3 linked regions of the Homo sapiens genome follow. The protein of the gene in region 1 purifies or fractionates together with the protein of each later gene. This does not show direct contact. Each region holds a gene or a part of one and is shown in the gene's direction. Other genes may lie near its edges.

What was found.
Region 2: the proteins of SEPTIN8 (region 1) and SCPEP1 fractionate together in Homo sapiens (co-fractionation; one large-scale study listed by BioGRID). This does not show direct contact.
Region 3: the proteins of SEPTIN8 (region 1) and RIOK3 purify together in Homo sapiens (affinity purification with mass spectrometry; one large-scale study listed by BioGRID and IntAct). This does not show direct contact.

Annotation. Positions count from the first base shown.
Region 1 is NC_000005.10:132,763,670-132,767,318, reverse strand, and holds part of SEPTIN8 (septin-8), read left to right. Parts: intron 1-1,789; coding exon 1,790-1,910; intron 1,911-2,899; coding exon 2,900-3,095; intron 3,096-3,426; coding exon 3,427-3,613; intron 3,614-3,649. UniProt on the Homo sapiens protein: Filament-forming cytoskeletal GTPase. May play a role in platelet secretion. Seems to participate in the process of SNARE complex formation in synaptic vesicles.
Region 2 is NC_000017.11:56,988,069-56,991,717, forward strand, and holds part of SCPEP1 (retinoid-inducible serine carboxypeptidase precursor), read left to right. Parts: intron 1-147; coding exon 148-222; intron 223-3,030; coding exon 3,031-3,103; intron 3,104-3,649. UniProt on the Homo sapiens protein: May be involved in vascular wall and kidney homeostasis.
Region 3 is NC_000018.10:23,451,958-23,456,165, forward strand, and holds the start of RIOK3 (serine/threonine-protein kinase RIO3), read left to right. Parts: upstream 1-1,329; 5' UTR 1,330-1,482; coding exon 1,483-1,545; intron 1,546-4,208.

The DNA of each region.
Region 1 (3,649 bases):
AGGAAGGCCTGGAACACCATGCTAAGGGCTTTGGACCTGACCCAGCACCTCCTAGGCTTCATTAACTACTTTTATGTGGGCACCAATGAGAGGAAACTGCCTTTGGGACCTCCTTGTCCAATTATGTTTGCAGCCCTAAGGAGATCTGGGCTTGAGTGGGGAGATTGGGACATGATGCTTTGGGGCTAGGTGATGGGGAGAAAGGGTCAGCTATAAGAAAAGAGGCTCCGTTGAGAGAGAGTCATGGGAGAAAGCAGGTTTAGGGGTAGCCCTGACTTGTTTGAGGGGATGGTACAACTGCCCAGAGGGGCCATGTGGGGTCTAGGTTGCCAGCACCCACACTTGGGAGTCGTTGATGCAAGGCTGCTGTGGGGAGGTAGACATCAGTTGTGCAGAAGGTTGGGTTTGAGTGCCAAGGTTCTCTGGTTGGGAGGGAAGGATGGCCAGAGGGGTTCAGGCCAAGGCAGTGGGCTGTGGCACAGGTCAGCTGCTCAGGTGCTGAGGAGATGCTTCTGTGGGGCAGGAGTCAGGGCCCCCTGTCGGTTCCTGACCCCGAGCCTGTATCCACATCTGCACAAGGGCTGCCACTGGCCCTATCTCCTGGGCTGTCCTTAGCTGGACCTGCTTCACCACCCTGCGGCTATGGGCAGGAGAGACTCTGAATCCGCTGCCCCTTCCTCTCCTTCCTCTTTCTAGCTGTCTCAGGGCAGTGGGGCTCAGGAATGGAGGAGGCATGACTCTGCACAACATGGAGCTGCCTAAGGTCTGCCCTCCAGAGGGGCTGAACCTGGGAACCTTCCCTCGGGCAGCATTTTACCCCATTCCAGGGAGTCAGAGAAACCAGCCACACAAGTTGGAGTGTGACCATGACCCTCTGCTTTGGGTCCTCGTGGTTTCTTTTTATAGAGCGGTGGGCCACCTCCAGTGGCCCCAGCTCACTCGGGGCCTGCCGCTCAGCCCTCTGCTAAGGCCAGGCCTCCACATTCTTACCCGGAACCTTCTGTCTAGACAACCAGGGCTGAGATGGGGGTGGAAGGGTGGCAGGAGTCAGGAGCCAGGAGCTGGGGGTCTCTAGAGAATACCACTGAGGCAGAAGGGAGGAGGCCTCAGAGTCTCAGTCCCTTTGAAACCCACCCCTGAGCCCCACGGGGGGGTTGTGTGAGTGAGGGCCGGCTCCTTTAGCAGGGTCCATGCATGAGTCCCACACGTGGGTGTGTGAGGAGCAGGGGTGAACATGGAGGGCTACGAGCCCAGCTGATAGAGAAGGCTCCTCTGAGGGAGCATGCTTGTGAGGGGTTTGGACCAGACGTGGCCCTACTTGAGTCCTGCATCAGTGGGAGGGCCTGGGAGGACTAGGCAGGGGCAGCATCCCCCGTCTCCTAGAGCTGGCTGCAGGAACAGACACACTTTCCAATCTGGTCCTCTGGGACCATCTGGGGCCTCCTCCTGAGTAGGAAAACAGGTGGGCCCTTATGGGTAGCAACCACAGCCCCTGGGGCCACCTATGCCAGGAGACATGGAGCCCTCAGCCCAGGCATCCCTGGCCATCCCAGGTGGAGCAAAGCTACAGAGTGGAAGGGCCTTTCCCCCTGGGGGCATCGGGCTCCCTCTGGGGAAACTTGGCCTGGAGTTGGTGCTCGGGTGTACTCAGGGTGTGTCTGAGATTTGTTGAGAATTCAGACATCGGGTGGGGCTGCTTCACTGTTTTAACTCAGATTTAGCGCCCACCCCGCAGCTTGACCTTTCTTCCCCAGTGGGCTCATGTCTTGCTTTATTTCTCTCTTGGCAGAATGCAGAGCCAGAGCCCCGGAGCCTCTCCCTGGGCGGCCATGTGGGTTTCGACAGCCTCCCCGACCAGCTGGTCAGCAAGTCGGTCACTCAGGGCTTCAGCTTCAACATCCTCTGTGTGGGTGAGTGTCAGGGCCTGGCCTCAGACAGAGGGTGGGTGAGAACCTCCTGGGAGAGGGGGTGCTTCTGGCCCCCTGTTGAGCTGCAAGGGGGCTTCCCAGGCAGAGTGAAACTTTGGGGGTGTCAGGACGAGGATTTGGTTGGTGTCTCTGCCAGAGTCAAGGATAGAGTTAGAGCCAGGGCCTGACACAGCATTGTCATGAAGAGTAAACTGGATCGGGCACATGAAAGTGCTTTGTAAACTGTGGGTGTTTATCACAGAGATTTAGGTTCATTTATTCATTTGTTTGTTCATTTAAAAAACATGTACTCATTTACTGCTTCCCACCCTGTGTCAAGGACGTTATGGTAAACAGCTCTGCCCCTCATCACCATATCCTATGGTAAGTGCTCCAGCACGCATGTGAACAAATAACAGCCCCAAGCAGAGAGGCTCTCGGAGGTTCCCTGGGACTCCCAGAAGGACACAAAGTGCTCTTCTGGTCCCTCTGCAGGTGTCCTTCGGGAAGCAGCCCATCCTGAGTTCCCCCAGCTAAAGCCATGTGGAGCTAGGGCTGTCCGGGGCGCATGGGTTGAGCCACTGGTGGCTTTAGACCCTGGCCCTCTTGGTCCCATGACCACCCTGGTCCCAGGAGGGGTGTTGTGTAGAGCAGGTTATGTGTGAGGTGATTGGGTCTGCAGTGGTGTCTACACAGCTGCCTGGCTCTGTCTCTTCCCTGCTCCCTGAGGAAATACATCACATATCACACACAGCTATGTCTTCTGTCCAAGTTCACCTTTTGGCTCTTCCTTCCACAGGTTATTTCTGAGGCCACAGGAAAAGATAGTTCCTGGGGAATGGGGGTGATGAGGGATGGGGTGGGCGGCCTGCCCCTTTCTCTTATCCAGGGGCCATGGATGCCTGAGCCCTGCCTGGCCTAGCCACCAGTCAAGGACAGCCCATTTCCAGCCTATGACACCCACTTCTTCCCCTCCTGTCCTCACTGCCCAGGGGAGACCGGCATTGGCAAATCCACACTGATGAACACACTCTTCAACACGACCTTCGAGACTGAGGAAGCCAGTCACCATGAGGCATGCGTGCGCCTGCGGCCCCAGACCTATGACCTCCAGGAGAGCAACGTGCAGCTCAAGCTGACCATTGTGGATGCCGTGGGCTTTGGGGATCAGATCAATAAGGATGAGAGGCAAGAGGCGGGAAGGGCGGCCCCACCCAGCCTCCTCCCACCCCACCTACATTGGCCCCTATAACAGTAGCCCAGCCCTCACACTGCAGGGGGCCAGGGAGGGCCTCTTGGGGAATATCTGAGGCTCTGTGGTCACCAACAGACCAGTTACTCCTTTAGGTGTCTGGAGAAGGGGTCAGCTGCCTGTATCCAGTCAGGGATCTCAGGCAGAAGCTGTTCCCAGAAAGAAAAGGCCAGGGGGCAGCCTGGCTTGGCCCCGAGCCCTGAGCCCCCCAAGCCCCAAGCCCCTGATCTCAGCTGGCAGCCTCCTGGGTGATGGAGCTGTCTGTAGTTACAGGCCCATAGTTGACTACATCGATGCGCAGTTTGAAAATTATCTGCAGGAGGAGCTGAAGATCCGCCGCTCGCTCTTCGACTACCATGACACAAGGATCCACGTTTGCCTCTACTTCATCACGCCCACAGGGCACTCCCTGAAGTCTCTAGATCTAGTGACCATGAAGAAACTAGACAGCAAGGTATCCCTGTCCCCACCTGCTGTCACAGGCTCCATA
Region 2 (3,649 bases), on another chromosome or scaffold:
CAATAATCAGATATGGAGTGGTGGGGGAGGAAGACAAAGCAGATTTGTTTTTTCTGGTCATTACGTGCAATAGAAATTTGAAATTAATTTGTGTGACTCAAAAAGCAATCAAGGTAGTTAATTCTGTGTAATTCCTTTTCTTGCTAGACAGTTCCATTCTACATTTTCTCAGAGTCCTATGGAGGAAAAATGGCAGCTGGCATTGGTCTAGAGCTTTATAAGGTAATGGAAAATAACTTTGTTGTTATGGTTTTGGACAGAAAATCAATTATGTTACTTTTATGTACTCACGTGCTATTAAATATACTTTGAATAGGGCCATGTACATGCAGAGTACGATTAAATCTGTAGTAATAACCATAAAAAGTTTTTAAAAGAAGAATGAAGATTGCCCTGCTAGATCTGGAACAAGATATAAAGCATGAGTGAGTAAAAGAATGTGGTACTAACATAGCAATAGACAAATAGGTTAATTGCAACAGGATACAGAATCCAGAAACACACACACATATATATGTATGTGTATCATATATTTGTATTTTATATAAATATATATGATCATATATAAATATAAGATAACGTTTCAAATCATTGGGGCATGGATATAATGTCGATAAATGTTATGGAGACAAATACCTATCACTTTGGAAAATAGAAAACTTGTATTCCTGCCTTGTATAAAATATTAATTCTGGATGGATTAAAATCTAAACATAAAAATAAAAATAATGGAGACAAATACCTATCACTTTGGAAAATAGAAAACTTGTATTCTTGCCTTGTATAAAATATTAATTCTGGATGGATTAAAATCTAAACATAAAAATAAAAATTAGGACAGAATGCAGTGGCCCACGCCTATAATCCCAGCACTTTGGGAAGCCCAGGCAGGAGGACTGCTTGTGACCAGGAGTTCCAGACCAGCCTGGGCAACATAGCGACACCCTGTTTCTACAAAAAAAAAAAAAATAATAAGCTGGGCACAGTGGCTCCTGGCTGTAATCCCAGCTACCTGGGAGGATGAGGTGGGAGGATCGCTTGAGCTCAAGGAGTTGAAGCTGCAGTGAGCTGTGATCATGGCACTGCACTCCAGCCTGGGTGACAGAACAAGACTGTGTCTCAGGAAAAAAATGAAAACAAAAACCAAAACCAATGTCCTAGTAGAAAAATGTGGACAAGCAATTTGTAGAAGAAATATAAACAGCCTTTAGACATAAGAAAAATCTTCAGCTTTTATTAGTAAGCCAAGTCCATGAGATTTGTAAATATTTAAAAGACTGATAACACCCAGTTTTGGTAAGAAGTCAGGGAAATAAGTGCTGTCGTGCACTTTTGATGGGAATACAAATTAATTTAAATTTAAAAGGACAATTTGACAATGTCAATTTTTTAAAGATATGTGTCATTTCACCCAATAATTTTGTCCTATGGGAATACTTATACATATGTATATGTCAGAGAATGTTTATTATGCCATTGTTTATAATGTTTATAAACTGAAAACAGCTGGTTGGCTGTCAGTAGAGGATTGCTTAAATAAAGTAGGTATATCTTTCCAAGATGAAACCCTTTGCAGCCAGCATAAAGAATGGATCCAGGCGGGCGCGGTGGCTCATGCCTGTAATCCCAGCACTTTGGGAGGCCGAGGCCGGCAGATCGCTTGAGGTTAGGAGTTGGAGAGCAGCCTAGCCAACATGGTGAAACCCCATCTCTACTAAAAATACAAAAATTAGCTGGGCATGGTAGTGCACGCCTGTAATCCCAGCTACTAGGGAGGCTGAGGCAGGAGAACTGCTTGAACCCAGGGAGCAGAGGTTGCAGTGAGCTGAGATTGCGCCTCTAGTCTGGGTGACAGAGCGAGACTCTTTCTCAAAAAAAAAAAGAATGGATCTTAGCACTTTGGGAGGCTGAGGTAGGAGGATTGCTTGAGATCAGGAGTTAGAGACCAGCCTGGACAACATAGTGAGACCCCTGTCTCTACAAGAAAGAAAAAAGAAAGAATACAGAGAGCTATATATACTGAGTGTGGAAAGTTCTCCTTTGGGTATTTAGTTGTGGAACGATATGAGATAACTTTGTTTGTAAGTCAAAAACACTTCCATATGTGGAGATAGATTTGTATGCTGTGACGGCAAACAAAAGGGTTAGAAGGATACATGACACACTTAACTGCAGTCAGTTGGTGAGTGTGAGGGCACAAATGAGACAAAGTAAAAGACTTTCACATTTCCTTCTATCTCCTATGTTTGAATATCAGTGAGCTTAAATAAGGGTTTTTTTTAAGATTTATTAATTTAAAAAACTTATAGAAACAGCATATGTACATTATAGAATATTGGAAACTGTAACAAGCATAAATTAAAAATGAAAACTTCACCTTCCCACCTGATGGAGATCACTATAGTTAGCATCTGGGTATATAGCTTTCTAAATATTTTTGTGCACATTTATATAGAATTGTTTAGCTGAATGAGATCATATTATACATACTGGTTTCAGCCTGCTTTCTTCAATCAGTAGTTCTCAACTTTCTATTTCTGTAAATTTTCATCTCAAATATTCAGACTTTTTCTTTTTGAGACAGGATCTTGCTGTGTTGCCCAGACTAGAGGCTGGAGTACAGTAGCATGATCATGGCTCACTCCAGCCTCTGCCTCCTGGGCTCAAGTATCCTCCTGCCTCAGCCTCCCGAGTAACTGGGACTACAGACGAGCACTACCGTGCCTGGCTAATTTTTGTATTTTTTTGTAGAGATGGGGTTTTGCCATGCTGCCCAGGCTAGCCTCGACCTCCTGGGGTCAAGTGATCCTCTGACCTCAGCATCCTGGGTATCTGGGACTATAAGGCACATACCACCATGTCCCACTGATTTTTTAACTTTTTGTAGAGATGGGGGTCTCACTACATTGCCTAGGCTGGTCTTGTATTCCTAGGCTCAAGCGATCCTCCTGCCTAAGCTTCCCAAAGTGTTGGGATTACTGCGTGAGCCACTGCACCTGGCCTGAGGACGTTTCTTGTTTCCTCTTTCAGGCCATTCAGCGAGGGACCATCAAGTGCAACTTTGCGGGGGTTGCCTTGGGTGATTCCTGGATCTCCCCTGTTGGTAAGTGTGGCATTTTCAGGCATTTTTTCACTCCCCTTTTGCCCATCCTTTCCTGGGACTTTGGGCTGTGTTGTCCAGATCAAAGAGCTAAGCAGGAGAATGTTCTGGGCCCTTAGAGAAAGTGTTTGCTACATCCAAGAAATATAGAGACAGAGTGCCTACCATGGACCACTAAGGGCTGAACTGAGTTTTCTTAATTTAATTATCACAACAAAAGGATCAAATTTTACAATTGGAGGCATTCTGAAGACTCAGAGAGGTCAAGAAATGTGCTATCTGCCACGTAGGATGAGTGGCCTAGTCAGGATTCAAATCCAGGTCTGTGCTGCTCAGTACAAAGGCAAATCTGTTTTGTCATCCTGCCCCCTCTACTTCCCTGATGCTGACATAAGTGTTTGGGGTAAAATTCCCGTCTGTTACGCATATTGATGGCAAGACAAGGTTATCGTCTGGTCTTGCAACTCAGAAGTGTGCAGTTTTGTAATTGAGCATCCGTGTTGCGAGCATAAATAAGAGTTGTTTATGTTGCAGACACCCAGGGTGTGG
Region 3 (4,208 bases), on another chromosome or scaffold:
AGGTGATCCACCCACCTTGGCCTCCCAAAGTGCTGGGATTACAGGCATGACCCACCACGCCCAGCCCTCTCCTATTTTTTCCTAGCCAGAATTGAGAAGTCCATTTCTATTAATAGTTACACCCATTTTTCTTAAACTATTTATCGTCCAATTATAATCCTTTGAACACTAGGAAGGAACACAATTTCCACACACATTCACATATATAGGCAACATTTGCCAAGCACACATCTGCACCCTATCATATGGCTATAGTTTGCCTTATTGCAGTAGGGGTATTTGGAGGATTCAGAACATGTTTTCACCTGGAATGGAAAGGAGGCAAAGATTGTGTGCTAATGGAAATCATTAAGATCAGTAACCCAGGGCTCTCAAGTATGGACAGTTAGAGATACTGACTCGGAACTGAGATTTAGGGAAAACAGTTATTCAGTACCTATTTCTAGAATGTTTGAATATACAACATATAGACAGTGTATAGTTTATAGTCAAAATATAATGTACAGCCAGTCCAGTTCCCAAACCGATTGTCTGGGTTCACCCCTTATTAGCTTTGCCACTTGTTATCTGTGTGACCTCAACTAAATTACTTTACCTCTCTGTGCCTCAGTTTCAATATCAGTAAAATAGAGATAATGACAGAATTTAGCTCTCACGGTAATTTTGAGGACTAAAAAGTTAATGAAAGATTTGAACAGTGCATTGATATACTAAGTGAAATGCAATGTTTAGTTATCTTTTATCTGGTCATTTTATTAGAATCTCTACAAAATACAGAAACAAAAGTTTTATTATGCAGTCTTATTTTTGTTCACTGTTACGTAACACATTTTACACATTTTCCGCATTCCACGCCCCGCCCTTCAACAACAACCACCACAAACTCCGACCGTCCTTTCCAGGCCCTTTCCCTCTATAAACCTGCCGTTTTCTGTCTCCCAAGTCATCCCAGTTTAGAACTGCTCCAGGAAATAATGAATGAACAGAGAGAGCCTAGTTTGTTTATTTATTTACAATCCACTAGTCTAATCTAGTTTAGATCCAGCGGCAATTTTTGGGGTGCCAAGGAGGAAAGAAGGAGATGGCAGTGCGGGGACAGGGCAGAGCCTGGGCCAAAGGAAGCCACACCCAGTTCTTGCCCTGCCCTGCCCGACACAGGCAACGTGACCCCAAGCGACAGCCAGCTGATGCTTGCTTCTCCGAGCCCGGCGGTCAGCAGCCGGAAGTAGCCCGCCCGGGGGCGGGGAAAGGTGCCTTAAGGAGGAGCTAGGGGCGTGCGGCCAATTGCAAGCGACTGTCCTAGCGAAGAGGGCGGAAGAGGAGAGATCCAGTTCCGGACGCGGCCGCCGCCGTCGCCGCCATCTGTCACCTCCACTCCGGCATCAGCAGCCAGTCGCCCGTGTCCCGCCTGTCTCCTCGGCGGAGCCTGCTGCCCGTCCTGCCACCTCTCTGCTCTGTTCTTGTCTCTGCCTTCATTCCCGAATGGATCTGGTAGGAGTGGCATCGCCTGAGCCCGGGACGGCAGCGGCCTGGGGACCCAGCAAGGTAAGTGGCAGACGAGACTGGAGTACTAGCCTTGGTCACACGGGCTGGATCTCTCGGAAAGCTCGGAGAGGGCGGCTTCGTGGGCGATTCGGGAAGTTCTGGGGCGGGACCCCGCGGACCTCGGCAAGGGGGCACTGGCCGCGGGGGTGCCGGGATGGGGATGGAGGGAGCGGAAAGAGGGGCGGAGGGCGGCTGGATCTCCCAAAGGCCACCTTGAGTGGTTAGGGCTCTCTATTTCTTCAGCGTACTTTCTGTATCACCGTAGCATGTATTTGAGCAGGACTGGCTTACACACCCTGATGATACTGGAGGGGAAACAAGCACGATCTTGTTTTTCACTGGCCAAGTGAGTCAGCCGAATACACAGCTAGCCAGACAGAAAGTTGGTTTAGGAAGCTGTTTACTTAATTTGATAAGTGTGGTTATCCCAGTTTGGAAATGTCTTGTTTTTGAAGCAGTAAAAGATAAAACCCAGGCGCACCCTCCTCCCTCGACGCTGAAATTCAAGTGCGCACCACGGACTGTAAAGTGCTTATGAATTTCATTATCTGCCTAAGCTTTGACGTTTAAACTTTTTCATAGAGTGGCAAACTAAAGACCTTTATTTCACATTTGCTTTCTGGTTTCCAGGCAGGTCCTTTTCATGATACTTTGATTATATGGATGAAAACACTTTTCTGCCACTTTATGGAGGGTCTGCTTGAGAGCAGAGTGCTTCCATTGGGATTTTTTGTTCCACAAATTAAGGTCGTAAAGGAGTCTAGCTTTTTTAGCTTCATAGTTGTTCTTTACATGCTAACACAGAATATTTGTTCCCATTTAAAAGGTCTTATTAGATCTTCAGGCTAGGCCTTAACAGGAAAAGGGGTCAATAATTAGCTATTAAGTAACCAAAAGTTAATTTTGTAAAAGTTCTCGTACAGCTGTTGGAAGAATCTGAGATACTGCGTTGGCAAATGTGGTTAAGTCTGCATGTTATTTTGTGTATTTTTCCTTGAGACCTTGTTTACAAGGTCAAGATTAGCAGACATAAAAGGATGAAATCAGTAGACAGACTAGTATTATGAATATATACCCTGTATGTTAAAGTCCTTCAGTTAAGCATTGGCAGAGGCTGGTAAAAATGTCAAATGAGACAGACTCTATTCAGAATACATCCTAATCTCAGAACAAATTTCACTTACAAACTAATTCAGTAATAAACTATTTAACAGTCATATTTTTATTTAAGTGTACATCATCAGAACTATAAAATTCCATTTTCATTGTGCAACAAAAATGCTTCTGGGATTTATAGACGCTCTATTGGGAGGACAGTGTTTTGAAAGGCAAAACAATTAGAAACAGGCTGAAAGTACTATCATTAATCCTTTTTTTCTCTAACCTTTTGGAAAACCAAAGTGATTACAGAAGCCTACATGGAGGAGGTGAAGATTTGAGGAGGGTTTTGAAAAATGGAAGGATTCTCAAAACTTTTTAGTCAGGACTTCTTTCCTTCCTTCCTTCCTTCCTTTCCTTCCTTTCCTTTCCTTTCTTTCCTTCCTTTCTTTTCTTTCCTTTCTTTCCTTTTCATTTATTTATTTATTTGAGACGGAGTCTCGCCCTATCGCCCAGGCTGGAGTACAGTGGTTTGCTCCCAGCTCACTGCGACCTCTGCCTTCCGGGTTCAGGCAATTCTTGTGACTCAGCCTCCTGAGTAGCTGGGATTACAGGCGCCTGCCACCACGCCCAGCTGATTTTCGTATTTTTTTTTGTAGAGATGGGATTTCACCGTATTGGCCAGGCTGGTCTCAAACTCCGACCTCAAGTGTCCACCCGCCTCGGCCTCCCACACTGCTGGGATTACAGGCGTGAGCCACCATGCCCAACGTCTTTCTTTTTTTTTTTTTCTTTTTCTTTTTTTTTTTTGAGACGGAGTCTCGCTTTGTTGCCCAGGCTGTAGTGCAGTGGCGCGATCTCGGCTCACTGCAAGCTCCGCCTCCTGGGTTCAAGCGATTCTCCTGCCTCAGCCTCCCGAGTAGTGGGACCACAGGTGCCCACCACCACACCCGGCTAATTTTTTGTATTTTTAGTAGAGGCGGGGTTTCACCGTGTTAGCCAAGATGGTCTCGATCTCCTGACCTCGTGATCCGCCCACCTTGGCCTCTTTCTTTTTTAATTGAGACAGGGTCTCACTCTGTCACCCAGGCTGGAGTGCAGTGGCATGATCACATCTCACACTGTGCCTTGACCTTGCAGGCTCCCACCTCGGCCTCCTGATTAGCTGGACTACAGGCCAGTGCCACCACACCTAGCTAATTTTTGGGTTTTTTTTGAGACGGAGCCTCGCTCTGTCACCAGGCTGGAGAGCAGTGGCATGATCTCAGCTCACTGCAACCTCCGCCTCCTGGGTTCAAGCAATTCTTCTTCCTCAGCCTCCCAAGTAGCTGGGACTACAGGTGCATGCCACCATGCCCAGCTAATTTTTATATTTTTAGTAGAGATGGGGTTTCACCATGTTGGCCAGGATGGTCTCGATCTCTTGACATTGTGATCCTCCCACCTTGGCCTCCCAAAGTGCTGGGATTACAGGTGTGAGCCACCGCGCCCAGCCAATTTTTGTATTTTTGTGTAGAGATCGGATTTCACCATGTTGCCTAGGCTGGTCTTGAACTCCTGGGCTC